Regions from separate parts of the Homo sapiens genome. Here regions 2, 3, 4 and 5 are each linked to region 1. The links come from fine-mapping of genetic effects on gene expression. A gene starts in region 1. Each other region holds a variant in brackets. All regions are shown on one strand. Distances are from middle to middle. Region 1 holds the start of CAMKK2 (calcium/calmodulin dependent protein kinase kinase 2). Region 2 overlaps P2RX4 (purinergic receptor P2X 4). Region 3 overlaps P2RX4 (purinergic receptor P2X 4). Region 4 overlaps ANAPC5 (anaphase promoting complex subunit 5). Region 5 overlaps CAMKK2 (calcium/calmodulin dependent protein kinase kinase 2).

The links. PIP is the estimated chance that this variant, and not a neighbour inherited with it, causes the effect.
Region 2: its variant is fine-mapped to the expression of CAMKK2 in sun-exposed skin (GTEx, PIP above 0.99).
Region 3: its variant is fine-mapped to the expression of CAMKK2 in monocytes (Fairfax 2014, PIP 0.95).
Region 4: its variant is fine-mapped to the expression of CAMKK2 in whole blood (TOPMed, PIP 0.99).
Region 5: its variant is fine-mapped to the expression of CAMKK2 in blood mononuclear cells (TOPMed, PIP 0.95).

The regions. Positions count from the first base shown.
Region 1 is chr12:121,293,781-121,298,875 of GRCh38, forward strand. It overlaps CAMKK2 (calcium/calmodulin dependent protein kinase kinase 2), which reads right to left and starts at 2,929. Exons shown (of 17, transcript NM_001270485.2): 1 at 2,858-2,929. RefSeq lists a silencer at 2,465-3,614.
Region 2 is chr12:121,231,734-121,236,884 of GRCh38, forward strand. P2RX4 (purinergic receptor P2X 4) reads left to right here. Exons shown (of 12, transcript NM_002560.3): 9 at 681-774; 10 at 878-943; 11 at 1,264-1,359; 12 at 1,790-2,373. The coding sequence ends at 1,816. Among named protein-coding and RNA genes, the nearest start is that of P2RX4, 24 kb to the left of the region's middle. RefSeq lists an enhancer at 2,009-2,636. The variant T/C (reference allele first, on the strand shown) is at 2,775.
Region 3 is chr12:121,217,620-121,222,714 of GRCh38, forward strand. P2RX4 (purinergic receptor P2X 4) reads left to right here. Exons shown (of 12, transcript NM_002560.3): 3 at 4,294-4,365; 4 at 4,475-4,547. Among named protein-coding and RNA genes, the nearest start is that of P2RX4, 10 kb to the left of the region's middle. The variant TA/T (reference allele first, on the strand shown) is at 1,999.
Region 4 is chr12:121,337,832-121,342,831 of GRCh38, forward strand. It overlaps ANAPC5 (anaphase promoting complex subunit 5), which reads right to left. Exons shown (of 17, transcript NM_016237.5): 5 at 4,172-4,238. Among named protein-coding and RNA genes, the nearest start is that of ANAPC5, 12 kb to the right of the region's middle. The variant G/A (reference allele first, on the strand shown) is at 2,210.
Region 5 is chr12:121,240,546-121,245,696 of GRCh38, forward strand. CAMKK2 (calcium/calmodulin dependent protein kinase kinase 2) reads right to left here. Exons shown (of 17, transcript NM_001270485.2): 15 at 4,595-4,695; 16 at 4,028-4,070; 17 at 1-324. The coding sequence ends at 154. Among named protein-coding and RNA genes, the nearest start is that of P2RX4, 33 kb to the left of the region's middle. RefSeq lists a silencer at 221-300. The variant A/G (reference allele first, on the strand shown) is at 2,790.

The DNA of each region.
Region 1 (5,095 bases):
CTTCAGGGAGCCTCCCAGATTCACACCAGTCTGAGGAGATTTCTCCAGAACCCTCAGTGCCCTGTGCTCCTTCGATCACAACAGCACTCATTCCTTGTGGTGTTTCTCAACAGTGGCACTGCTGGCATTTGGGGGAGGGTGATTTTTTTTTGTTTTTTGTTTGTTTTTTGAGAGGAAGTCTCCTTCTTGTGCCCCACGCTGGAGTGCAATGGCACGATCTCAGCACACTGCAACCTCCGCCTTCCAGGTTCAAGTGATTCTCCTGCCTCAGCCTCCCAAGTAGCTGGGATTACAGGTGTGTGCCACCACGCCCAGCTAATTTTTGTATTTTTAGTAGAGATGGGGTTTCACCATGTTGGCCAGGCTGGTCTCGAACTCCTGACCTCAGGTGATCCTCCTGCCTCGGCCTCCCAAAGTGCTGGGATTACAAGCGTGAGCCACCACGCCCAGCCAGGGGAGGGTGATTCTTTATGTCGTGGCCCTGGCCTGCCTACAGGACACTTTAGTAGGCATCCCTGACTCCCGCCCACTAAAAGCCAGGAGTGCTTAGCATCATTTTGACAACCAAAAGTCGCCCCCACACTTTCCCAAATCCCTGCCAGGAGGGTGGGACCACCCCCGGATGAGAACTAGTGCATTGTTATTAGTGACTATATTTAGCTACCAGCCCACTAGCCATATCTAAGGATGGGCAGTACTACAGACCCTGCATAGAGCTGCATCGGCAAACACTGATGTAGTGAATAAACAAAACAAAACAAACTCCTGGGCTCCTCAAGAAGCTCAGGGCAGCCTTGCCAGGGTCTCTGCTCTTGAACAGGTGCACAAAGGTTCTAAGGCCTGACATGCCTGCACTGGCTGTGTGACCCTGAGCAAGTTACTTAACTTCTCTGAGCCCTTCTATAAAATGGGGCTAAATCCTAGCAACACTGCAGGATTTCTGTAAACCTCAGTCTCCTAATCTCTACTATGGGGTTAAAATTCCCTACGTTGTAGGATTTGGTAGGCATTAAATGAGATAATGCATGTAACACATAGCACAGAATCTGGCAGGCAGCAAGAACTCAATAGATGTTAGTTTTTAATACTGTTATTATTATTATTGTCCAGGGCCAGGTGGCAGCTCATGCCTGTAATCCTAGCACTTGGGAGACTGACGTAGGCGGATCACTTGAGGTAAGGAGTTCAAGACCAGCCTGACCAACATGGTGAAACCCCTTCTCTACTAAAAATACAGAAATTAGCCAGGCATGGTGGTGGGCGCCTGTAATCCCAGCTACTGGAGAGGCTGAGGCATGAGAATCGCTTGAACCCGGGAGGCGGAGGTTGCAGTGAGCCAAGATTGTGCCACTGCACTCCACCCTGGGCAACAGAGACTCCGTCTCAAAATAAATAAATAAGTATTCTTATTATTATCCAAGTTAGGGGCTCATCAAATGATGGCTATTACTCTTCATTACAAAAATATGTTTTGCGTCCTCATCACCAATGCCTGCTTCCTCCATAGGAAGGGTGTGTGTCACCAATGCCTGCTTCCTCCATAGGAAGGGTGTATGAGCAGCAGTCTGGAAGGGGTATGTGGGGCTTGCCCTAAAGCTGCATTTGCATGGCATGCACACTATTTATTCTGAAACTGCATGTTTTTGTGGGGTGATTAGGGAAGAGGGTGGCTAACTCCCCCAAAGCCCTCCCCTTGTTGCAGCCCCCGCCTCCTCCAAGGAACAAAGGAGCTTATGGGGACATAAAGCCATCCTCTTCTCTCTCCTCTGGGGGCAGAGCTAGGGGAGGGGGAGTGGTAAATGGCAGCACAGCTCTAGGGCACCTGAAGTTTCTATCCCCTGCGTGGAGACTCCAAACACCAGGCTGGGGAAGGTAAAAGTAGCCTGTAGGGAGATGGACGCTGCAGGTCCCATCCGGAGGCCAGGTATCCCTCTCTTGCTGATAGCACTGAGACGCCCTCCCCAAAGCTCAGCCTTCTCGGGGAGATCGGAGGGGCTGAGCTGCATCCTGTCCAGCACTAAGTGAGAGTGGCCAGGAGGGCAGGCTGGCAGAGCTGTGAAAGCACCCACTTCCCCAGCTAGGCAGTGCAGGGGCTGGGGGAAAGCCAGGAAAAGCTCAAGGCTGGGTCGGGTGGCACCCCAGGCACAGAGCCCCAATGCTGAGAGGGGCTGGGTCCAGTGTCCCTGAGAGTCAGGCGGACGCCTCTCCGCATTCACAGCATACTGCAACCCCGAGGTGAATTTAGGTCAGAAGGACCAAGCCTGTGAGGCTCCGGCTGAGAGAAGAGGTGCGGTGGGGGTGGTCAAAGGGCAGACCGAAGACAGCCAAAGGTCCCCTAGGTCCCCACAACTGCTGGCCTAGGGTCCTGCCACCTGGTGTCCAAGCCACCAGGGCCTGGGTTTGCCCCGAGACAGGCAGGCTGCGGGGTGGGGGTGCTCCAAGTCCGCTGGTCCTCTCTTCCCCGGAACGCTCCAGATTTCCCCACCTGTCAAACGCGAGGGGCTGGGCCTAGGCCGCCTCCACGAACCCTGACGGACCCGGCCCCCGGTGACCCCGGTTCCAAACTCCAGGACCGCCCCTGCCACCCGGACAGGGCGCGGCCCAGCCGAGGAGGCCATCCCGAGGCCCAGGGCGCCCAGAGGACGCGGGGGAAGGGCTGTCGGGGACCGTGTCCCTCCACGTGGCGGGGCGTGGGGAGGCGCACGTGGGGTCCCTCCGTGTTGGGAGCCCCAGGCCAGCCTCCGGGCTTTGTGTGCCATGCCGGCGGCGGTCCCCCGCCTCGAGAGGGAAACGGAGCGGGCGCCCGGGGCCGCGGCGGCTGCGTCCCTTGCCCCGGGCCCGGCTACCGCCAGCTCACCTGGGCTCCGCGCCGCCGCCGCCTCCCGCGCTCTGCGCCCCCAGCTCGGCTCGGCTCGGCTCAGCTTGCTCTGCGCGGCCGCGCGCTCCTCTCCTCCGCCCGGGCGGCGGGCGCGCGGGGGGCGGGGGCGGGAGGAGCCGCCCGGCTCGGCTTGGGCGCGTCGCCGCCCCGGGCAGCGCGGGGATTGGCCACGGCGGCGGGAAACCCGAAAGCGGAACCGCCCGCGCCCGCCGCGCACCGCCCCCTGCGCGCCCCCGCCGGCTCGGCCCTGCGCCGGGGAGGGGTGGGGAGGCGGGAGCCTGCAAAGACGAAAGTAGCGAAGAGGCGAAGGGCAAGGAGCAGAAAGGGAGGAGGCGAAGAACGGGGGAAGAGAGGCCCGGCCGGGAGGATCGGAGGCGGCTGGGAGGAGAGCCTGGAGGGGCGCGGAGCGCAGGAGGTGGCGCCGCAACTTTGTACCCGCTCGCCCGCGGCGCGCACCTGCCCAGGTTCTTCCCGCGGCGCCCTCGGGCGGGCCGCGCCGGCAGCGCTTGCTTTGTTTAGCCAAATGCCGGGGCTGCAGGGCGCCTCCGGGCTGACCCTGGGAAAGTTCCCCCAAGCCGGCAAGAACACCCGGGGCCCCTCCTGTGGCGACCCGGCTGCTGCCCCTGCGCTAGGCGCCGGGCGGTGGATGCGGCCTGGACTTTGGGCCACCACCGACTCGGGGGAGCCCCCTTCCGCAGCTGCCTGCCGACTGACCACTTGCTCAGGGCCGGCCCTAAAGGCTGGGGGAAGGCGTTCCTCTCCCATCCCCAGCCCACCTGGATGCACCATTGAAGTTCATTCTGGCTTTTCCAGATGGCTACTTAGATGCTTTTTGTGAAATACAGCATATTCTTCCCATTCTCCCCTTTTTGGCACTTACTTTGCTGGAGCCTTAAGTGTGCGTTGGATCCCCCAGCTGGATAACAGCACTGTGCGGGGAAGAGGAGAAACGAAGACCTGGAGGGCTCCCTGAACCGTCCTACGGGGTCGAGCGACCCAGGGGATGTCTCACTGACCCTGCCAAACAGCCAAAAGGGAATCGAGTTGACAGGAGAGTCAACCTCCAAGTTAATAAAAGGTTCAAAGCCCTCTAGTTAACTGGGTGGATTTCCAGCCCGTTCCGATGTGCTTCTCTTGTATTTCTAGGCCGTAGGGACACTCACATGCAACGAGCCAATGAGAGCTCCACCCCGACTCCCTTTTTTTTTTTTTTTTTTTTCTTTTCTGAAACGGAGTCTCGCTCTGTCGCCCACGCTGGAGTGCAGTGACGCGATCTCGGATCACTGCAACCTCTGCCTCCCAGGTTCAAGCAGTTCTCTGCCTCAGTCTCCCGAGTAGCTGGGATTACAGGCGCCGGCCACCATACTTGGCTAATTTTTGTATTTTTCGTAGAGATGGGGTTTCACCATGTTGTCCAGGCTAATCTTGAATTCCTGACCTCGTGATCCACCCGCCTTGGCCTCCGAAAGTGCTGGGATTACAGGTGTGAGTCACCGCGCCCGGCCCACTCCCATTTTTTTTTCTTTGTTTTTTTTGTTTGTTTGTTTGTTTGTTTGTTTGTTTGTTTTGAGACAGGGTCTCTCTGTGTTGCCCAGGCTGGAGTGCAGTAGCACGATCACGGCTCGCTGCACCCTCGACCTCCCCAGGCTCAGGTGATCCTCCAGCCTCAGCCTCCTGAGTAGCTGGGACTACAGGCACACACCACCACACCTGGCTAATTTTTTCTATTTTTTGTAGAGACAGAGTTCTCCCTATGTTGCCCAGGCTGGTCTCAAACTCCTGGGCTCAAGTGATCCTCCTGCCTCTGCCTCCCAAAGTGCTGGGATTATAGGCATGAGCCAACATGCTCGGCCATCCACCTCTTCTGATGTTACTCAACGTGCATGCATTTGCTGGAAATGGCAAAAACCTGAGGCCGGGCATGGTGGCTCACGCCTATGATCCCAGCACTTTGGGAGGCCCGGGCGGAGAGATCACTTGAGGCCAGAAGTTCGAGACTAGCCTGGCCAGCATGGTGAAACCCCATCTCTATCAAAAATACAAAAATTAGCCCGGTGTGGTGGCGGTGCCCGTAATCCCAGCTACTCAGGAGGCTGAAGCACGAGAACCACTTGAACCGGGAGGCAGAGAGATCGCACCACTACCCTCCAGCCTGGACGACAGACCAAGACTGTTTCAAAAAAAAAAAAAAAAGTCTGGGCACAGTGGCTCACGCCT
Region 2 (5,151 bases), 62 kb before region 1:
CTGTGTGCACAGAATCAATGTTTCTTTGAAAAAATAAATAAATTTAAAAAGCCCTAGGTCAAGAGATTGAGACCATCATGGCCAACTTGGTGAAACCCCGTCTCTACTAAAAAATCCAAAAATTAGCTGGGCATGGTGGTGTGCGCCTGTAGTCCCAGCTACTCGGGAGGCTGAGGCAGAAGAATTGCTTGAACTGGGGAGGTGGAGGTTGCAGTGAGCCAAGATTGGTGCCCCTACACTCCAGCCTGGCAACAGAGGGAGACTCCATCTCAAAAAAAAAAAAAAAAAAAGTCCCTGCACTGATGCTGTGTTGGGGCTGGCTTAGTCCCCTCCTGCAATGCTGGCTGGTCACATTCTTACTGTTAGATGTTGGAGGTCAGGGTCCCTTGAGGGAGGCAGGCAGGATGTACCAGGTGGGATGTTGAGAGCAAACTGTTCAGGTTCAGGAGAGGACACTGGTGCTGGAGGAGGAGGTCTCCCTGTGCCCCTGTACCTCGTGGGCCCCGCATCCTCCTGCTTGCACAGCCCGCCTCAGCCAGGAGAGGCCCCGAGCCGCTCCAGCGTCCATTCAGCCGGCAGAGTGGACCATTCACCTGTGCCAGCTCCACTCTAACGTTCTCTCACAGGGCCCAAGGTCCTGCCCCAGCCATCTCCCCCTGATCCATCCTCCTTCCCCTCAGGTTTGCCAAGTACTACAGAGACCTGGCTGGCAACGAGCAGCGCACGCTCATCAAGGCCTATGGCATCCGCTTCGACATCATTGTGTTTGGGAAGGTAGCTCGCCGCCACTGGCTCCCCTCCGTCACTCCCTGCAGGGACAAGGGGCCTCTCCCTGCCCCTGCAGAAACACTTTTTTTCTTTTTCGGTGTCTTGGCAGGCAGGGAAATTTGACATCATCCCCACTATGATCAACATCGGCTCTGGCCTGGCACTGCTAGGCATGGTGAGTGGTTTAGGCCCTGCCTTCACCCTCACGGTGAGGTGAGACCCTGGGCTGGGGTCCTGGTCCTGGCCCTAGGCCCTAGACCTCAGATGTGTTTCTAAACTTGACCCTCCTACCTTCTTTCCCTTGGCCCCCAGCCCTCCTCCCACCTTCCCTTCTCCAAGACCACCCCCCTCAGGTCCCAGCCTTCTCCCAAGAGATGGGAGTGCCTTTCCATTCCGGTAAAGATTCCAGGCTTCTCAGGAAGGGGCACGCAAAGAATAAGATGGGTTGATGGGTTGCAAGCATCCTGGCTCACTCTCACCCTATGCTAAACTCAGGCGACCGTGCTGTGTGACATCATAGTCCTCTACTGCATGAAGAAAAGACTCTACTATCGGGAGAAGAAATATAAATATGTGGAAGATTACGAGCAGGTAGGCCCCTCCTGGCCCCCAGCAGGCACAGGCCTCTCATCTCTTGGGTGTGGGAGCCCTGGGCGTGGGCCTGTCTGGGGAGGCCCTTCTGCAGAGGCTGGCACCAGTGTGGCGTGGTGTCCCCGTTAACCCGGGCAGTCCTGCCACTCTCAGCAGCTGCTCCATCCCTAGGCCCCTGTACTAGATTGACTCTTTAAACCCAGCCTCGTTTCAATGAGCGACATCTCAGGTTGGTGATGATAATGCATGCTCTGAGAATGCCTGTGGGCACACACTACTTCAGTGCACCTTGCGGAACAGGAAGGGTTGGGTTCCAGGCCTGGGACCAACTTGAGAACCCCTGGCGGTGAAGTCCCAGGAGCGCACCTCCCTCCCGCCTGCCACAAGGGGTCCCAGGGGCACCTTGATCTGCTTGTGTCCTTCTTTGCAGGGTCTTGCTAGTGAGCTGGACCAGTGAGGCCTACCCCACACCTGGGCTCTCCACAGCCCCATCAAAGAACAGAGAGGAGGAGGAGGGAGAAATGGCCACCACATCACCCCAGAGAAATTTCTGGAATCTGATTGAGTCTCCACTCCACAAGCACTCAGGGTTCCCCAGCAGCTCCTGTGTGTTGTGTGCAGGATCTGTTTGCCCACTCGGCCCAGGAGGTCAGCAGTCTGTTCTTGGCTGGGTCAACTCTGCTTTTCCCGCAACCTGGGGTTGTCGGGGGAGCGCTGGCCCGACGCAGTGGCACTGCTGTGGCTTTCAGGGCTGGAGCTGGCTTTGCTCAGAAGCCTCCTGTCTCCAGCTCTCTCCAGGACAGGCCCAGTCCTCTGAGGCACGGCGGCTCTGTTCAAGCACTTTATGCGGCAGGGGAGGCCGCCTGGCTGCAGTCACTAGACTTGTAGCAGGCCTGGGCTGCAGGCTTCCCCCCGACCATTCCCTGCAGCCATGCGGCAGAGCTGGCATTTCTCCTCAGAGAAGCGCTGTGCTAAGGTGATCGAGGACCAGACATTAAAGCGTGATTTTCTTAATCCCTGTCTGTTGTCTCATAGCATGTGCTAGAACTTTCCTTCCTACCCTTTTACGACAACCAGTAAATCCACTATTCCGGCTCACTGTGCTCAGAAAAGGTCCATGGGATGGTCTGTTTCTGGCACTTATGCACATTTTCCCCTACTTCTTTATTTATTTATTTTATTTTTGAGGCAGAGTCTCACTCTGTCGCCCAGGCTGGAGCGCAGTGGTGCAATCTCGGCTCATTGCAACCTCTGCCTCCCGGGTTCAAGCGATTCTCCTGCCTCAGCCTCCCGAGTAGCTGGGATTACAGGTGCATGCCACCATGCCCGGCTAATTTTTGTATTTTTAGTAGAGACAGGGTTTCACCACATTGGCCAGCCAGGCTGGTCTCGAACTCCTGACCTCAAATGATCCA[T/C]CTGCCTTAGCCTCTCAAAGTGATTGGATTACAGGTGTGCGCCACCACACCTGGCCTATTTATTTTTTTTATTACCCAGGCTGGAGTGCAGTGGCGCAATCACTGCTCACTGCAGTCTCCACCTCCTGGGCTTAAGCGATCCTCCTACCTCAGCCTCCCATAGTGCTGGGATTACAAGCATGAGCCACTGCACCCAGCTGCCTACTTTTTAAAGCCTAATAATTTGTCATTAGCTTGTCTTCCTGCACAGTTCACAGGACACTTTTTCTCTAGTGACATCTTACCTGTGCCTCCATTTTGACATAAAATTACAATTCTATGCTGTGGGTAACACAATTTTTGGTAACATGGAAGTGGCTTCCTCTCCCTTCCCTGTTTGCTTCCCAAAAGTCTCCAACCAAAAGCAGCAGCACGCATACCTAGCTCCGCACAGGTTCGAAATGTTCATGAAGCTATTTCCAGCTGCAGCTTCACACCAACTAAATGTTTGTGTTTTTTTGTTTTTGAGACAGAGTCTTGCCCTATTGCCCAGGCTGGAGTGCAGTGGCATGATCTCGGCTCACTGCAACCTCTGCCTCCTGGGTTCAAGCAATTCTCCTGCCTCAGCCTCCCAAGTAGCTGGGATTACAGGCATCTGCCACCACACCCAGCTAATTTTTGTATTTTTAGTAGAGACAGAGGTTCACCATGTTGGCCAGGCTGGTCTGGAACTCCTGACCTCATGATCCACCGCCTCAGCCTCCCAAAGTGCTGGGATTACAGGCGTGAGCCACTGCACCCAGCCACACACCAGCTGAATTCTGCATCAGGTATTCAGAATCCCCCTAGAGGAAGCAGTTTGCCCTTCGCCTCTGCCATGAATTCACTTCCAAGTACTGAGAGGAACCATTATTTTACAAATACTCTGCTTCTGCTGGATAAATGGCCAACCTGGGCTTTTCTTGCTTTTGGAAAAAAAAAAAAAAGTTTACCAACTCCCTTTATTGAAGCTCTGGTTCATGCTGCCTTTTAAAAAAAAATGCTTGTTGCCTGTAATCCCAGGACTTTGGGAGGCCAAGGTGGATCACTTAAGCGTAGGCATTCAAGACCAGCCCAGTCAACATGGTGAGACCCTATCTCTACAAAAAATTAAATTAGCCGGGTGTGGCGGTATATATCTGTAGTCCCAGCTACTTGGGTGGCTGAGGCCGGAGGATCACTTGAGCCCAGGAGGTTGAGGCTGCAGTGAGCTATGATGGTGCCACTGTACTCCAGCCTGGGCACCAAAGTGAGACCCTGTCTGAAAAAATAAAAAGTGCTTGCTTAGGCACATGGGTCAAATGAAGCTGGAATGTTTAGGAATGGTGATATGGGCTGAATGTGTCTACCAAAATTCACATTTTGGAAACTTCATCCCCAAGGCAACCTTATTGGGAGGTGAAGCCTTGGGGAGGTGACTGAGTCAGGATTGCGCTGCCCTCATGAATGGGGTTGGTGCCCTATACGAGGGCTAGAGAGGGAGCTCATCCCCCGTCTGCCTTGCCACTGTCTGCCACGCGAGGACAAGTGTTCCTCCCTCCAAAGGATGCGGCACCAAGGCACCCTCTTGGAAGCAGAGAGCAGCCCTCACCAGATACCAAACCTGCCAGCACCTTGATCTTGAACTTCCTGGCCTCCAGAAATGTGAGAAATCAATTATTGTTCTTTATAAATTACCCAGTCTTAGGTCCCTGTAACAGCAGCACAAAACAGACTTAAGGGCAATGGGTGTGTTTATGATCTTGCTCGTCAAGGAGTGATGGTCACTGGCTGTCTTCCGAAGTGGGGGAGATGCTGTTTAGCCTCTTTTCTAAAACAAATGTGAAAGCAAGCCAGTGTTGGGGTGAGGGGCGGGTGTGTTTCTAGATGCCATGAACACCAGCAGGAGGCTGGGTGTGGTGATGCGCGCCTGTCATCCCAGCACTTTGGGAGGCTGAGGCAGGAGGATTACTTGGTCCAAGAGTTTGAGACCAGCCTGGGCAACAGGTAGTGAGACCTCATCCCTACAAATAATTTAAAAATTAGCCAGGCATGGTGGTGCACATCTGTAGTCCCAGCAACTCGGGAGGCTGAGGTGGGAGGACTGCTTGAGTCCAGGAGTTTGAGACCAGGCCTGGGTAATATAGTGAGATTCTGTCTCTATAAAAAATTTAAGAATTATCTGGGTGTGGGGGCTGGTGTGGTGGTGGGCCCCTGTGGTCCCAGCTACTTTGGAACCCAAAGTGGATGGATCACTTAAGCCTGAGAGGTGGAGATTGCAGTGAGCCGAGACTGCCACTGCACTCCAGGCTGGGTGACAGAACGAGACCCTGTCTCAAAAAAGAAAACCAGAAGGGTTTTGCTGGCAAATTCTAACCCT
Region 3 (5,095 bases), 76 kb before region 1:
TTTTCAGACAGTGTAAAAACTTTAGGCCGGGCACAGTAGCTCACGTGTGTAATCCCAGCACTTTGGGAGGCTGGGGCGGGCAGATACCTTGAGCCCAGGAGTTTGAGACCAGCCTGGGCAATGTGGTGAAACCCCATCTCTATAAAAAAAAAAAAAAAGAAAAAAAAAGAAAAGAATTAGAGACCATTAGAGACCAAAACCCAAACAAGAAGGAAACAGAGACAGCAGCACAGGACTCCATCGGGAGCGAAAGGAAGGGAAGACATTGTTTACTGCTGCATACTAGTCTTCAGGCTGTTAATCTGCAAAGCTCCAAGTTAAACATTGACTCTTTAGTCCTGGTAACAGCTCTGCACCACACAGTCAAACCCGACATAGCCCTCCAGATGGCCTATGTGCTAAGGGACCGAGGGCGACCAGTAGAGATAAGCTGCCAACTCTTGGCTCAGAGCTCTTGCCAGGGAAAACAAGAACTCCAGAAACTCTTTCTTCAGGTGTGTTCTTCCCCCTGCCTTCTCAAGAGAAGGGTCTTGTGGGGTCCCCAGAGAGGAGACCGAGCTAATGAGCCATAAAAGTCAGGAGGAAGGGCCAGGTGCGGTGGCTCATGCCTGTAATCCCAGCACTTTGGGAGGCCGAGGTCGGTGTATCATGAGGTCAAGAGATTGAGACCATCCTGGCTAACATGGTGAAACCCTGTCTACTAAAAATACAAAAATTAGTGGGGTGTGGTGGTGGGTGCCTGTAGTCCCAGCTACTAGGGAGGCTGAGGCAGGAGAATCTCTTGAACCTGGGAGGCGGAGGTTGTAGTGAGCCGAGATAGTGCCACTGCACTCCAGCCTGGTGACAGAGCAAGACTCCGTCTCAAAAAAAAAGATCAAGTGGAACAGGGGATTTGCAGTTGGCTGGAGGGGGCAGTCCTGTTAGCATGTACCTGTCTCAGCAGAGAGACGGTTGCCTCCTGTGCAGGCATAGCCTTGTCCCGGTGAGCTCTGGGAATGTCATGCTCGGTGTGTTTACTGGGCAGATGAGGAAGGGCACAAGCCCCGCTTTTGTCCCTTGGTGGAAAGGAGCACCCCACAACTCAGCCTTCCGTGGTGGATCTGGGCGGGGGCCGTGTGAGTTCCCCAGGGCTTTCCTCATGAGCTTTCACGACGTCTGTGTTCTTTGTAGATGGAACACAGTCATCTATTTGCAGCCCCTTGGCTCATCTCCAGACTGAAATTACCCTTAATTTGAAGTAGATAAGTGATAGGAAACAGGCCAGATGTGGTGGTTCATGCCTGTAATCTCAACACTTTTGGAGGCCGAGGCAGAAGGATCACTTGAGCCCAGGAGTTTGAGGCTGAAGTGAACTGTGATCACGCCACTGCACTCCAGCTAGGGCAACAGAGCAAGACCCCAACTCTAAAAGAGAGAGAAAGAAGGAGAGATAGGAAACGAAAAGTAGACCATACTGGATTGTTCCAAGTATAACTCAGGAGAGTCGTAGGAGCGGCCTTCTCTAACACCAAATGCAGAGTGTGTTTGTACATTGAACACCTGGGAACGTGACAGGTGGCGGGAGAGAGGCTGCAGCTCATGCCACATCCTCACGCCTCCTCCTGTGGCCTTCTCCTTGTCTCCCAACATAGTTTGCCCTAGGCCTTTGGAGGACGCCAGCTATTTCTAGAGCTTCCACCACTTGTCAGACCGTGGGGTTGGGGATGTCTACAGACTGGTTGGTTTCTGAGTTGCCCTGATCCCCAAGATGGCTCCCACTACTGACTGTTATCCTCAGGAGTGTGAAATGCTAAAAGCTTTGGGCATCTCCTTTTAAAATGCCTGGGCCCAGCCAGGCGCAGTGGCTTACGCCTGTAGTCCCAGCACTTTTGGAGGCCAAGGCAGGAGGATCACTTGAGCTCAGGATTCAAGACCAGCCTGGGCAATATAGTGAGACCCCATCTTGATTGGATGGGTGGTGGATGGATGGATGGATGGATGGATGGATGGATGGATGGA[TA/T]GATAGATAGATAGATAGATAGATAGATAGATAGATAGATGGAAAGAAAGAAAGAATAGATAAATGATAGGATAGGAGAAAGAAAGGGAAAGAAAGAAAAGAGAAGAGAAAAGAAAGAAAAGGGATAGGATAGATGACAGATGATAGGATAGATTAGATAGGTGATAGATAATCGATAAATAGAAAACAGATGATAGATATAGGATAGATTAGATAGATAGATAGATAGATAGATAGATAGATAGACAGATAATAGATAGATTAGATTAGATGGATGGACACCAGCCCCCAATGAGAGGAGGATCCAACTAGAATCTTTTGGGGTCTTTGCCTTTTATTCCTTATATGAGGAGGTCATTATCAGCAATTCTTCAGTCTCATCCCTAGCAAATTGCTTTCCAGAAACTCTAAATCAATTATTTGGCACCTTTATACATATAAGGAGGAAACAGAACCTTTTCAAAGAGAAATGTCACTTGCTGACCCTGACCGAGTCTTCTCTAGAATGTTTGATTTATAATTTCAGTTAGGAAAGAAAACCAGCCAGATTTGAGCCCCATGAGGCCTCATGTTTTTATTCCTCTGAGATAATCTGGTTGGCAGGGAATGTTTTTAGCACTTGTTGGCTCTTTCCCTCAGTAAGTCAAGTTTGATTGAGAAACCATTGTTTCAGTTTGCAGACCCCCCCCTTTTTTTAACTGCAGTCAAATTCACTTATAGAAACTAACCATTTTAAGTCGGGCACAGTGGCTCATGCTTGTAATCCCAGCACTTTGGGAGGCTGAGGCAGGTAGATCACTTGAGGCCAGGAGTTGGAGACCAGCCTAGCCAACATGGTGAAATCCTATCTCTACTAAAGATACAAAAATTAGCCAGGTGTGGTGATGTACACCTGTAGTCCCAGCTACTCAGGAGGGTGAGGCTGGAGAATCGCTTGAACCCAGGAGGCGGAGATTGCAGTAAGCCAAGATCGTGCCACTGCCCTGCAGCCTGGGCGACAGAGCAAGGCTCTGTCTCAAATAAATAAATAAATAAGAAAGAAATTAACCATTTTAAAATGAAAAATTCAGCACATTTAGTGCATTCACAGTGTTATGCAAGCATCACCTCTATCTAGTTCAAAACATTTCCATCACCCCAAAGGGAAGCCTCGTATGTTACACAACCACTCCCCATTCCCCACTTCTCTCACTCCCTGGCAACCCGTAAGTGCTTTGTCTCTATGGACTTGACTGTTCTGGAAATTTCACATCAATGTAATGGTATCCTGTGTGGCCTTTGTGTCTGGCTTCTTTCACTCAGCATCATGTTTTTGGGGTTCATCCATGTTGTAGCCTGTATCAGTGCTTTATTCCTTTATTTTATTTTTTGAGATGAAATCTCACTCTGTCACCCAGGCTGGAGTGCACTGGCGTGATCTCGGCTCACTGCAACCTCCACCTCCCAGGTTCCAGTGATTCTCCTGGCTCAGCCCCCTGAGTAGCTGGGATTACAGGTGCCCGCCACCACACCCGGCTCCTTTTGTGTGTGCGTGTGTCTGTGTGTGTTTGTGTGTGTGTGTGTGTGTGTGTGTGTGTGTTTTTAGTACAAAGTTTCACCATGTTGGCCAGGCTAATCTGGAATTCTTGACCTCAGGTGATCCTCCTGCCTCAGCCTCCCAAAGTGCTGGAATTACAGGTGTGAGCCACCATGCCTGGACCCTTCATTCCTTTTTATTCATGGCTGAATCACATTCCATCATGTGACTAGACTAGGACAGACATTTGGGCTGTTTCCACCATTTTTTTTTTTTTTTTGAGACAGAGTCTCGTGTCATCCAGGCTGGAGTGCAGTGGCGCGATGTCGGCTCGCTGCAACCTCCGACTCCCGGGTTCAAGCAATTCTCCTGCCTCAGCCTCCCAAGTAGCTGGGACTACAGGTGCCCGCCATCACACCCGGCTAATTTTTGTATTTTTAGTAGAGACGGGGGTTTCACTGTGTTGACCAGGCTGGTCTTGAACTCCTGACCTCGTGATCCGCCCGCCTCAGCCTCCCAAAGTGCTGGGATTACAGGCTTGAGCCACCGCGCCCGACCTGTTTCCACCTTTTGGCTCTTGTGAAAAGTGTTGCTCTGAATATTTATGTACAAGGACTTGTTTGAGTCACTGTTTTCCATTGGGTTATAAACTTTGATGGGAGAGAGCGGGAGAGCACGCGGTCAGTGTTTGAGTTGTCCTCTTCAGTCAGCGTCTGCCTTTCTTGGCTCTCCGTGAGTCCTCTGAGCGTGGCTTGCCCGTGCTGTCTCCCCTCTGCAGGAGGAAAACTCCCTCTTCGTCATGACCAACGTGATCCTCACCATGAACCAGACACAGGGCCTGTGCCCCGAGGTAGGAGGCCCCCGGGAAGAGCCCCAGGCCCCACACCCCTCTCCACGCCTGTCCACCTGTGTGTGGGGCCGGGCCACGTGGACTTTCTTTTCGCTCCTTCTTTTTCCAGATTCCAGATGCGACCACTGTGTGTAAATCAGATGCCAGCTGTACTGCCGGCTCTGCCGGCACCCACAGCAACGGTACGAGCTTGTGGCCTCCTGGGGAGGGCGGCCCCTGAGCAGATCGCCCCCACTGTGGAGCGTCTCTGATAGAGAAATCTTCCCAATTCCTTCACATGACCCTGGGTGAGCCAGGTGCCGAGGCTGGGGTCCTGGAGCCCCTCTACATTCACTGCTGTCATTGGAGCCCCACAAGCCATCCCAGCTCTTGCCCTACTGTTTTTTTTTTTGTTGTTGTTGTTGTTTTTTCTTGTTTTTTTTTTTGTTTTGTTTTTTTGTTTTTTTGAGCCAGAGTCTCGCTCTGTCACCCAAACTGGAGTGCAATGGCATGATCTCGGCTCACTGCAACCTCCACCTCCCAGTTTCAAACAATTCTCCTGCCTCAGCCTCCCGAGTAGCTGGGATTACAGGCATGCACCACCACGCCCAGCTAATTTTTGTACTTTTGGTAGAGATGGGTTTTACCATGTTGGCCAGGCTGGTCTCGAACTCCTGACCTCAGGTGATCCACCCGCCTCAGCCTCCCAAAGTGCTAGGATTACAGGCATGACCCACTGTGCCTGGCCTCT
Region 4 (5,000 bases), 44 kb after region 1:
CCCCACCCCAGACTGTAAGCTCCTTCCAGGCAGGTAATGTGTTTGCTTCTTGTATTTCCAGTGCCTGTATGGGGCCTTATGGGAGCCAGGTGGCTTGCCCCAGCTCTACTTATTTGTTTCATATGGACGATATCAGCAACAATTATATAAAATATGTAGAAAGTTAGCTACAAATTAAATGTTTACATTTAACTGGGTTATAGACACTTAACTCCAATTTTACCTAGATGAGTTTTTCTATAAGTAAAATAATTTCTAAGGGCAGGGTGTGGTGGTTGATGCCTGTAATCCCAGCACTTTGGGAGGCAGAGGCTGAGGCATGAGTATCGCTTGAGCCCAGGAGTTCAAGAACAACCTGGGCAATATACTGAGACCTCATCTCTATTTAAAAATAATAATTTCTTTAAAAAAAATTTTTTTAAAGTAAAAATAATTTCTAATTCCATTGTTAATTTATGTCATTATAGAAAATTATTGGCCAGGCGTGGTGGCTCACACCTGTAATCCCAGCACTTTGGGAGGCCGAGGAGGGCAGATCATGAGGTCAGGAGTTGGAGACCAGCCTGGCCAACATAGTGAAACCCTGTCTCTACTAAAGATACAAAACATTAGCCGGGTGTGGTGGCGCACACCTGTAATCCTAGCTACTCGGGAGGCTGAGGCAGGAGAATCACTTGAACTCGGGAGGCAGAGATTACAGTGAGCCGAAATCACGCCACTGCACTCCAGCCTGGGTGACAGGGCAAGACTCAGTCTCAAAAAAACAAAACAAAACAAAACAAAAAACAAATTATTATGTAGGTGTAGTATGGGGAAAAATTATTCCAAAAATATAGAAAACCTACAGAAGAAAACAAAAATCTTCTGCAATCTCACTACCCAGAAATAACGCTATTAATACTTTAGTGTATATTATCCTAGTCTTTGTTCTGTATGTGTGTATATATGTTACATATCATATTCTGATTTTGTTAAAAATATGTGTATACATATTATATAAATTTACAATATACCCTGTATTGTAAACATATATTGTGTATACATTACATTTTTAACAAAATCACAATATATGTTTATAATACAGGGTGTATTCCAAATTTATATAATGTGTATATACACATTATATTTTTAACAAAATCAGAATATGATATGTAACTTTATTTCCTGTTCTTTTCATTTTATATTGTAAACTTTGTCTCATCATCAAATATGACTTTTTTTTCTTTTTTTTTTTTTTTTTTGAGACAGAGTCTTGCTCTGTCGCCAAGGCTGGAGTGCAGTGGCACAATCTTGGCTCACTGCAACCTCCACCTCTCAGGTTCAAGTGATTCTTCTTGAATCCCAAGTAGCTGGGATTACAAGCATCCACCATCACATCTGGCTAATTTTTTGTATTTTCAGTAGAGACAGTGCTTCTCCATGTTGGCCAGGGTGGTCTCAAACTCCTGACCTCAGGTGATCCACCTGCCTCTGCCTCCCAAAGTGCTGGGATTATAGGCATGAGCCACTGTGCCCGGCCTGAAAATGTGATTTCTAAACCAAAACCAAAATCTAAACTTTCACTGTCATATTTATTGTAAATACTTTTTCCCAAAGTATTGGAGCCCAAGAACACCTTTGTTATTTGCCTTTTAATTTTTTAATTTTATTTCTTTTTGAGAAGGAGTCTCGCTCTGTCGCACAAGCTGAAGTACAGTGGCGAAATCTTGGCTCACTGCAAACTCCGCCTCATGGGTTCAAGCGATTCTTCTGCTTCAGCCTCCCAAGTAGCTGGGACGACAGGCACATGCCACCACATCAGCTAGTTTTTGTGTTTTAATAGAGACGGGGTTTCACCATGTTGGTCAGGCTGGTCTCGAACTCCTGACCTCAAATGATCCACCCGCCTTGGCCTTCCAGATTGCTGGGATTACAGGCATGAGCTGCCACGCCCATCCTGTTTGCCTGTTAATTATGTTAAAACAAGTCCTGACATGGAGATGCTTTCAATTTTTATTCTGAAAATCAAATTATCTTCTCCTACATGTTTTCTTCCAGTTTTTTTTTTTTTTTTTTTTTTTCCCAGATGGAGTGTCGTTCTTGTGGCCCAGGCTGGAGTGCAGTGGTGTGATCTCGGCTCACTGTAACCTCCACTCCCCAGGTTCAAGCGATTCTCCTGCCTCAGCCTCTGAAGTATTCCATAGCTTTTATGTTAGAAAGCTCTGGCCAG[G/A]CGCAGTGGCTCACGCCTGTAATCCCAGCACTTTGGGACGCCGAGGTGGGCAGATCACCTGAGGTCAGGTGTTTGAGACCAGCCTGCCCAACATGGCAAAATCCCGTCTCTACTAAAAACACAAAAAATTAGGCAGCTGTGGTGGCAGGCACCTCTAATCCCAGCTACTTAGGAGGCTGAGGCAGGAGAATCGCTTGAACCCGGGAGGCAGAGGTTGCAGTGAGCTGAGATCACCACCGCACTCCAGCCTGGGCAACAAAAGCAAAACTCCATCTCAAAAAAAAAAAAAAAACCAACAATGTGTAGCTCATTCTAGCCTAATTATCTAACTAAAGCTGTAAATATTTACATTTAACCCTGTAATCCATCTGTAATATACTGAGGTACAAGGTAAGGTAAGGAAGGATCCAGCTGTACTTTTTCCTTACAGTTAACCAATCACATAGACAGGTTTTTCTAATCTGTTTGAAATTCATCTGCAGAGGTAATTCCGTAAATTTTTTTTTTTTTTTTTGAGACGGAGTCTCACTTTGTCACCCAGGCCAGAGTGCAGTAGCGCAATCTTGGCTCACTGCAACCTCCGCTCACCGCAACCTCCACCTCCCGGGTTCAAGCGATTCTCCTGCCTCAGCCTCCCGAGTAGCTGGGATTACAGACGGGCATCACCACACCCGGCTAATTTTTGTGTGTGTGTTTTTTTTAGCAGAAACAGGGTTTCACCATGTTGGTCAGGCTGCTCTCAAACACCTGACCTTGTGATCCGCCTGCCTCAGCCTCCCAAAGTGCTGGGATTACAGGCGTGAGCCACCATGCCCAGCCTCCATCACTTTTGTCTAGATATAAACATTACATCTTTCTGCAGAAAGCTCATAACAAAATTAGGGAAAAGTAGAAAAATAGAGCAAAAACTAAAAATTCTATGCTGAAAATAACACAGAAAAATGTTCAGATTATGTTTCCAAGAAAATGAAAAAATATGGCTGAAAAGCATCCATAAGAAATGTTTGGGCTGGGCGTGGTGGCTCACACCTGTAATCCCAGCACTTCGGGAGGCAGAGGTGTCGGTGAGCTGAGATTATGCCACTGCACTCCAGCCTCAGTGACAGAGTGAGACTCCGTCTCAAAAAAAAGAAACAAAAAAGAAATGTTTGGGGCACGCTGGTTCATGTCTGTAATCCCAGCACTTTGGGAAGCCAAGGCAGGTGGATCACCTTAGATCGAGAGTTCAAGACCAGCCTGGCCAATGTGGTGAAACCCCATCTCTACTAAAGATACAAAAATTAGCCAAGTGTGGTGGTGCACGCCTGTAATCCCAGCTATTTGGGAGTCTGATGCATAAGAATAGCTTTAACCCAGGAGGCAGAGGTAGCAGGGACCCGAGATCATGCCACTGCACTCCAGCCTGGGCAATGCTCTAGCCTGGGCAACAGAGTAAGACTCTGTCTCAAAAACAACAAAAAAAGAGAGAAGTGTTTGGAGCAAAGTGTATTAATATCTGCAACTGGAAATATATATCAAAAAATAAGATGAAATGGTGGCTGAATAGAGAGTGGTTAGATAAGTAATAAATAGAACAAAAATATTAATTGTAGAATCGAGGTAATAGGTATGGGTAATTACCATACACTGCTTTTCAGGCTCTCTTTATGTTTGCAAATGTCTATAATAAAATGTTGAGAGAAGGGTTAAATCACAGGGTTTTAGGCTGTTAGTCACATACCATTACTAAATGAAACCTGGATTATAACTTTAATAGAAAAATAAAATCACACACAAAATAGGAAGGGGCACAGAGCTACAAGTGCTTCGTTAGTGAGGCAGAGGGGACCAAGAGTAAAGGCTGACACAGACTGACCAACAAACCTATGCACATAACGGGCCTATGCCACAACACACATCACAGGACTAGACACATCACAGGACTAGAACAGAAGTTCATGATAAATTACAGAATTCACATACCTGTTGAGAAAGAAAAAATTCTGCTTGTTTTTGGGACAGAGGCCCACTGCAAGATACCTCCTCTTCTCTGGAAAAAATAAAAAAACAAAAATAGTAAAGAATTACACAAAAGTAAAAATGATAACATTTATAAAATCAGATGGATTCTTGTATCGAAAGAGTTCAAAAAATTTAACTCTCTCCTCAGAACTAGGAAAGAAAAACATAAAAAGTGATGTTGAGATCAATGCACAGAGCCCATAAAGAAGCCCTGGCATGCATGGTCAAATGGTTTTTGGCAACAGTGCCAAGACCATTTGATAGGGAAAGGACAGCCTTTCCAACCAATGATGCTGGGAAAACTGCACATCCACATGCAAAAGCATGAAGGTGGATCCTTATCTAACACCATATTCAAAAATTAACTCACAAGGACTCAAAGACCTCAATGTGAGGCCAAGGACTCAAAGACCTCAATGTGAGGCCAAAAACCGTAAAACTCTTAGAAGATCTTCCTTCCACCTGCTAGTAATAAAAAATAAATAATACATTTTTAAATAAAAAAAATTAAAAACTCTTAGAAGAAAACATCGAGGAGGCCAAGCGCGGTGGCTCACACCTGTAATCCCAGCACTTTGGGAGGCCAAGGCAGGTGGATCACAAGGTCAAGAGATCAAGACCATCCTGACCAACATGGTGAAAACCTGTCTCTACTAAAATACAAAAAATTAGCCAAGTGTGGTAGTGCGTGCCTGTAGTCCCAGCTACTCAGGAGGCTGAGGCAGAAAAATTGTTTGATCCCGGGAGGTGGAGGTTGCAGCGAGCCAAGATCACGCCACTGCACTCCAGC
Region 5 (5,151 bases), 53 kb before region 1:
TAAAACAACAAAGGAAAAAACAAATAACCAGAGATGACGATCGAGGCTCTACACACGTGCTGGGTTTCCGTAGGACATGCTGCTATGGAAACGCGGTGCAGCAGCCCCCCAGAGGCGACGCGGCGCGCATGCGAGGTCGAGCGATCCAGGCAGCTACTCGGGCTCCATGGCCTCCTCCGGCCGCAGTGGATGCATGCGTGCGGGGGAGCCGGGGGCGGGGGCCCAGCAACTTTCCACGCAGGGACTGCCTCTCACAAGAGCACTTCCTCCTCCCCCACGGGGGGCGGGTCGGTGCCCTGGAGGTTGTCTTCGCTGCCTTGCTTCCTGCTCACCGAACAGAAAACCAACATTAAGACTCTGAGAAATGCCAGCGAGGCCCTGAGCCAGCTGCTCCCACATCTGGGCCCCCTGCCCAAGTGGGCCGTCGCGCACCCCCTGGAACGTGATCTACGTAACCCAGTCTTTGAGATCCTCTCCCCTTTTCCTTGCTCACATAAATTTTTCAAAGGAGACTTTGCACGCAGCCCCTCTGTAAATGAAAGACCAGCATCATTTGCCAAAAATAGCAAGGACCCGTACAACAGTTCCAAAACTATGTAACACCAAAATTCACTGCACAAATCCCAAGTAGAAGGCACCCCCCACCCCACGGCGCCTGTCATACCAGGTTTTTAGGTACTTCGATCCCCCACTTAGGCTATGAGCCCTTACAGGGAAGGGACTGTGACGCTTGTCCTCAGTCACCAGATGTTGAGTTCCTTGTGTGTGGGGGTGATCAGAGCCTCCCCTGCCTGGCCTGGCACACAGCTGGCCCTCAAGAAAGGGCAGATGACAACTGCTCCAGGGATCCTCCCGCCTCAGCCCTCCTGCAGCCAGCCCTGAGGGAGGAGCACCTCAGACAGAAGAGGAGGCCCCTTCCCTCTTGGAAGTGGGAGGAGGAGAGCCCTTGTTTCCCTGAAGAGCCCAGGCTGGAGCCGCCGGTGTGACAGCGTGGATGGCGTGACAGGTGCGAGGGGAATCCCCGAGCCTATCCCCTCACCACCATCACACAGCTCCCCTGTTCTTAGGGAGGTCACTGGGCATGCCACATGGGTTACTGTCTGTCCTTCCCCCACAACAATCCGTGTCTCCTGTCCAGGAGGGAGACTGTCCTTACACAAGGGAAAGGAAGCGTGATGTCTGGCTTGCTATGTTTCTGATGGAGAATGTGGGTAAGGTCCCTGGGGAGGGGGGCGCTGTAACTAGACGTTAGGTCAGGCCCTCAGTCTCTGCCCTCGCAGTTGCCTGTTGGTAGGGGTTGGGTCTTACTGCAGACGGCAGGCAGGCCCCCAGTCCAAGACCCCCAGTGCCTGAATCAGCTCTGTGAGCTCCCATGACCAAGGCATCCTACCTGCTGGGGGCTGAGGGCAGGGGATCCCAGGTGAAGAAAGGAAGGGGCAGCATAGCCCTTTGGGGCCAGTCTCCATCTGCTGGTGTCTTGCAATTTTGATCTCATTGAAACGAAGGCCGGGCACAGTGGCTCATGCCTGTAATCCCAGTACTTTGGGAGGCTGAGGCAGGCAGATCACCCGAGGTCAGGAGTTCAAGACCAGCCTGGCCAACATGGTGAAACCCCCATCTCTACTAAAAAAATACAAAAATTAGCTGGGCATGGTGGCACATGTCTGTAAACCCAGCTACTCAGGAAGCTGAGGCAGGAGAATCGCTTGAGCCTAGGAGGCAGAGGTTGCAGTGAGCCGAGATCACACCACTACACTCCAACACTCCAACCTGGGCAACAGTGCAAGACCCTGTCTCAAAAAAAAAAAAGAAAGAAAGAAAGAAAGAAAGAAAATAGGAAAGAAACCAACAGCAGACTTGCTCAGAGACAGGAGGCAGCCCCGGTTTGGCAAACCCTAAAATGGAGATTGAGAGGAGGAAGGCCGAGGAAAGGCCAGCCCGCTGGGTTTCCACTCCATCATCCGTGAGGCTCACACCCAAGGCGGGGCTGCCCAGGCGTCTGTCTGGGCACAAGCTGGGGACTGTGTCTGCCTTCTGAGACTGCTGAAGACCGGTTCTGAAGGACTGCCATTTTCCCTGCTCTATGCTGGAGGGCAAGGTTTCTCTCAAAAGCATAAATAATTCCCAAACAGGTGTTCCTCCTAGATTACCATATAAGCCCTGACTCCCACGGGATGGGTGGCCAATCCATTTCTTTTTCTTTTCTTTTTTTTTTGAGACGGAGTCTCGCTCTGTCGCCCAGGCTGGAGTGCTGTGGCGCAATCTCGGCTCACTGCAAGCTCCGCCTCCCGGGTTCACGCCATTCTCCTGCCTCAGCCTCCCGAGTAGCTGGGACTACAGGCGCCCGCCACCGCGCCCGGCTAATTTTTTGTATTTTTAGTAGAGACGGGGTTTCACTGTGTTAGCCAGGATGGTCTCGATCTCCTGACCTCGTCATTCGCCTGCCTTGGCCTCCCAAAGCGCTGGGATTACAGGCGTGAGCCACCGCGCCCAGCCTTTTTTTTTGAGACAGATTTTTGCTCTTGTTGCCCAGGCTGGAGTGCAATGACGTGATCTCAGCTCACCGCAACCTCCACCTCCTGGGTTCAAGTGATTCTCCTGCCTCACCTCCCGAGTAGCTGGGACTACAAGTGTGCGCCACCATGCCCGGCTAATATTTGTATTTTTAGTAGAGACGGGGTTTCACCATATTGGCCAGGCTGGTCTCAAACTCCTGACCTCATGATCCACCTGCCTCGGCCTCCCAAAGTGCTGGGATTACAGGCGTGAGCCACTGCATCCAGCCTGCT[A/G]GTCAATCCATTTCATCTCGTAAGCCAACTCCTAACACTTTGTACACAAATGTTCATAGCATCAGTCTTCATTCGATAGCCAAAAGGTGGAGACAAGTCCATCCACAGAGGAATGGATGAACAAAGTGAGGTGCATCCAAACAATGGAATCTTATTTGGCCATGAAAAGGAATGAAGCACTAATACATGTAGAGCATGGATGAACCTTGAAAACATGATGCTGAGAGAAAGAAGCCAGACACAGAAGGCCACGTAGTGTATGACGCCATTTATACGAAACGTCCAGAATAGGCAAATCCATACCTATTCTGAGTGGTTACTGGGGTGGGGGAGTTGGATGGGGACAGCTAAGGAGTGTAGGGTGTCTTCTTGGGCTGATGAAAATGTCGTAAAGTTGACGGTGGTAATGGCTGCAGAAGTCTGTATTAGAAACCACTGAATCATACACTTCCCGTGGGTGAATTACATGGTATGTGAATTGTACCTCAGTAAAGCTATGTTTAAGAAACAGAAGTGACTGCCTGGAGCTCCCACCAAGTCAGGTAGCCATGATGTGCTCAGTGGGAAGGGCAGTGGGGTCCCCACCCACCACAGCACCTGCAGCAGGGGTGCCCAGCAGGTTCTCCCAGTCTCATAAGGACACAAAGCCTCATCTGTCCTGGGAGGTTCTGGTCACCTGGGCTGGCTATGTGTATGAAGGAAGGGTGGCTGACAGCAAGAAGGTCTGCATCCACTCGGGTGAGGGAACTCTTACGTTACTTTGCAACAGGCAGGAAGGGGACTTATTTTCTAGGTCTAAACACATCAAAGAAAGAGAAGTGGAGGCTGGAGAGCCCCTAGCGAAGAGCCACACAGTGCAGCATGCCTGACCTATGTGCTGACCATGCGGACTCGGGGGGGCACCCATGGGCCCTGTGACAGAGCTTCAACACCATTGACGTGCACTGAGAAGACATGGGTGCCACACAGGATCTTCAGACCTGGGTGCATTCTCAGGCATTCCAGCTGGAGCGCCATGCACCCGCAGCCCCAGCCCACATGCATGACCCACCATTGGGTCCAAGCCCCCGAGGCCCCTCATTCTAATACTGGGTCTGGAGGCCCGCGGTGAGCCGGGCCACAGCAGCCCAGGCTGGAAGGAGCATCTGCCCGGGTGGGGATGCCCCCGTGCTCTGCAGCTGCCCACCCGCCCCCCTCAGGCCCCAGCAGAGGCTACGGCACAGGCAGGCGGGCGTTACCTTGAGCTCAGACAGGGACTCACATTCCCTGGTTGGTTTTTTGCTGGAATCACCAGAGGGAGGGAAAAGGGAAGTGAGAAGGGACCCTTGGGATCCACGGGATGCCCGTTCCCCCACCCTGAGACACTCAGACCCCAAACACCAGCTTCATAGAGCTGGAGCCAGGGTGGCGTTGACAGCAGATGAGTGGACACCTCTCTGCATGGACACACAGGGTCCTGAGTGAGACCACACTGCTCGCCCAGCACAGAGCCTCAAACCTCCCCATCAGGCACTCACGGTCCCGGGCCACAAAAGTGCTTTTCTTCTGACTGACCAAGAGCCCCCCAGCTACAGTGCAAGTTCCCGAGAAAGGTAAACTTCAGGTGGATTAGCTGTCAGCAAAAGGAGGTGGGCTGAGCCCAGGTTGGGGTGCTGACTGTCCCAGTGCACCAGGTGGGTTTCATCTGAGTCTCTCCAGATGGCACCACTTCAGGGAGGACCTGTGCAGAGTGGTCTGGGCAGGGCTGCCCCAAGCCTAGCCTCCAGCCACCACTCCCCCACCCAAGAAGGCAGGCGGCCACTCACGTGAGCAAGTTTCCAGGCGCTGACAGTGAGCGTTCCTCCCGCCGGCTGCCCTCGAATGGGTTCCCAAAGGAGCGTTTACGTATCATGGTCTTCACCAGGATCTGAAGAGGGAGAAAAGAGGAGGTGGCAGGCAACTGCTTGGCCATGTGGGGGCGATTCTGGGCAACATCCTCCCTCTTCCTTCTCCCCAGCCCCTGCCAGCTCCCAGGGCTGGTGACCGATGGCAGACTTTGAGAGAAACTGGGCAGCACCACCCCGCAACCAACCCCCGCCGAAAGAATCCTCTGGGAAAAGGTGCTGTCCTGCACCACACCCTCAGCCACTGCTCAGCGTCTCTCCCAGGCCTCCCTGCTTTCCACCTCCCTCCCTCCCATCCCTTCCAAAACCCAGATCTGGTCCCCTCACTCCCTGACTCAGCATCCCCACCCAGAGGGGTCTGGAACTTGGCCTGTGGTCAGCCAGAGAGCCCCGGAAAGTTCTGGAGCAAGGACGTGAACCAGTCATTCTTGGTGATGCTCTTGGCTGCCATTTCCCATGAAGGGAATGGCCTGAGGGCC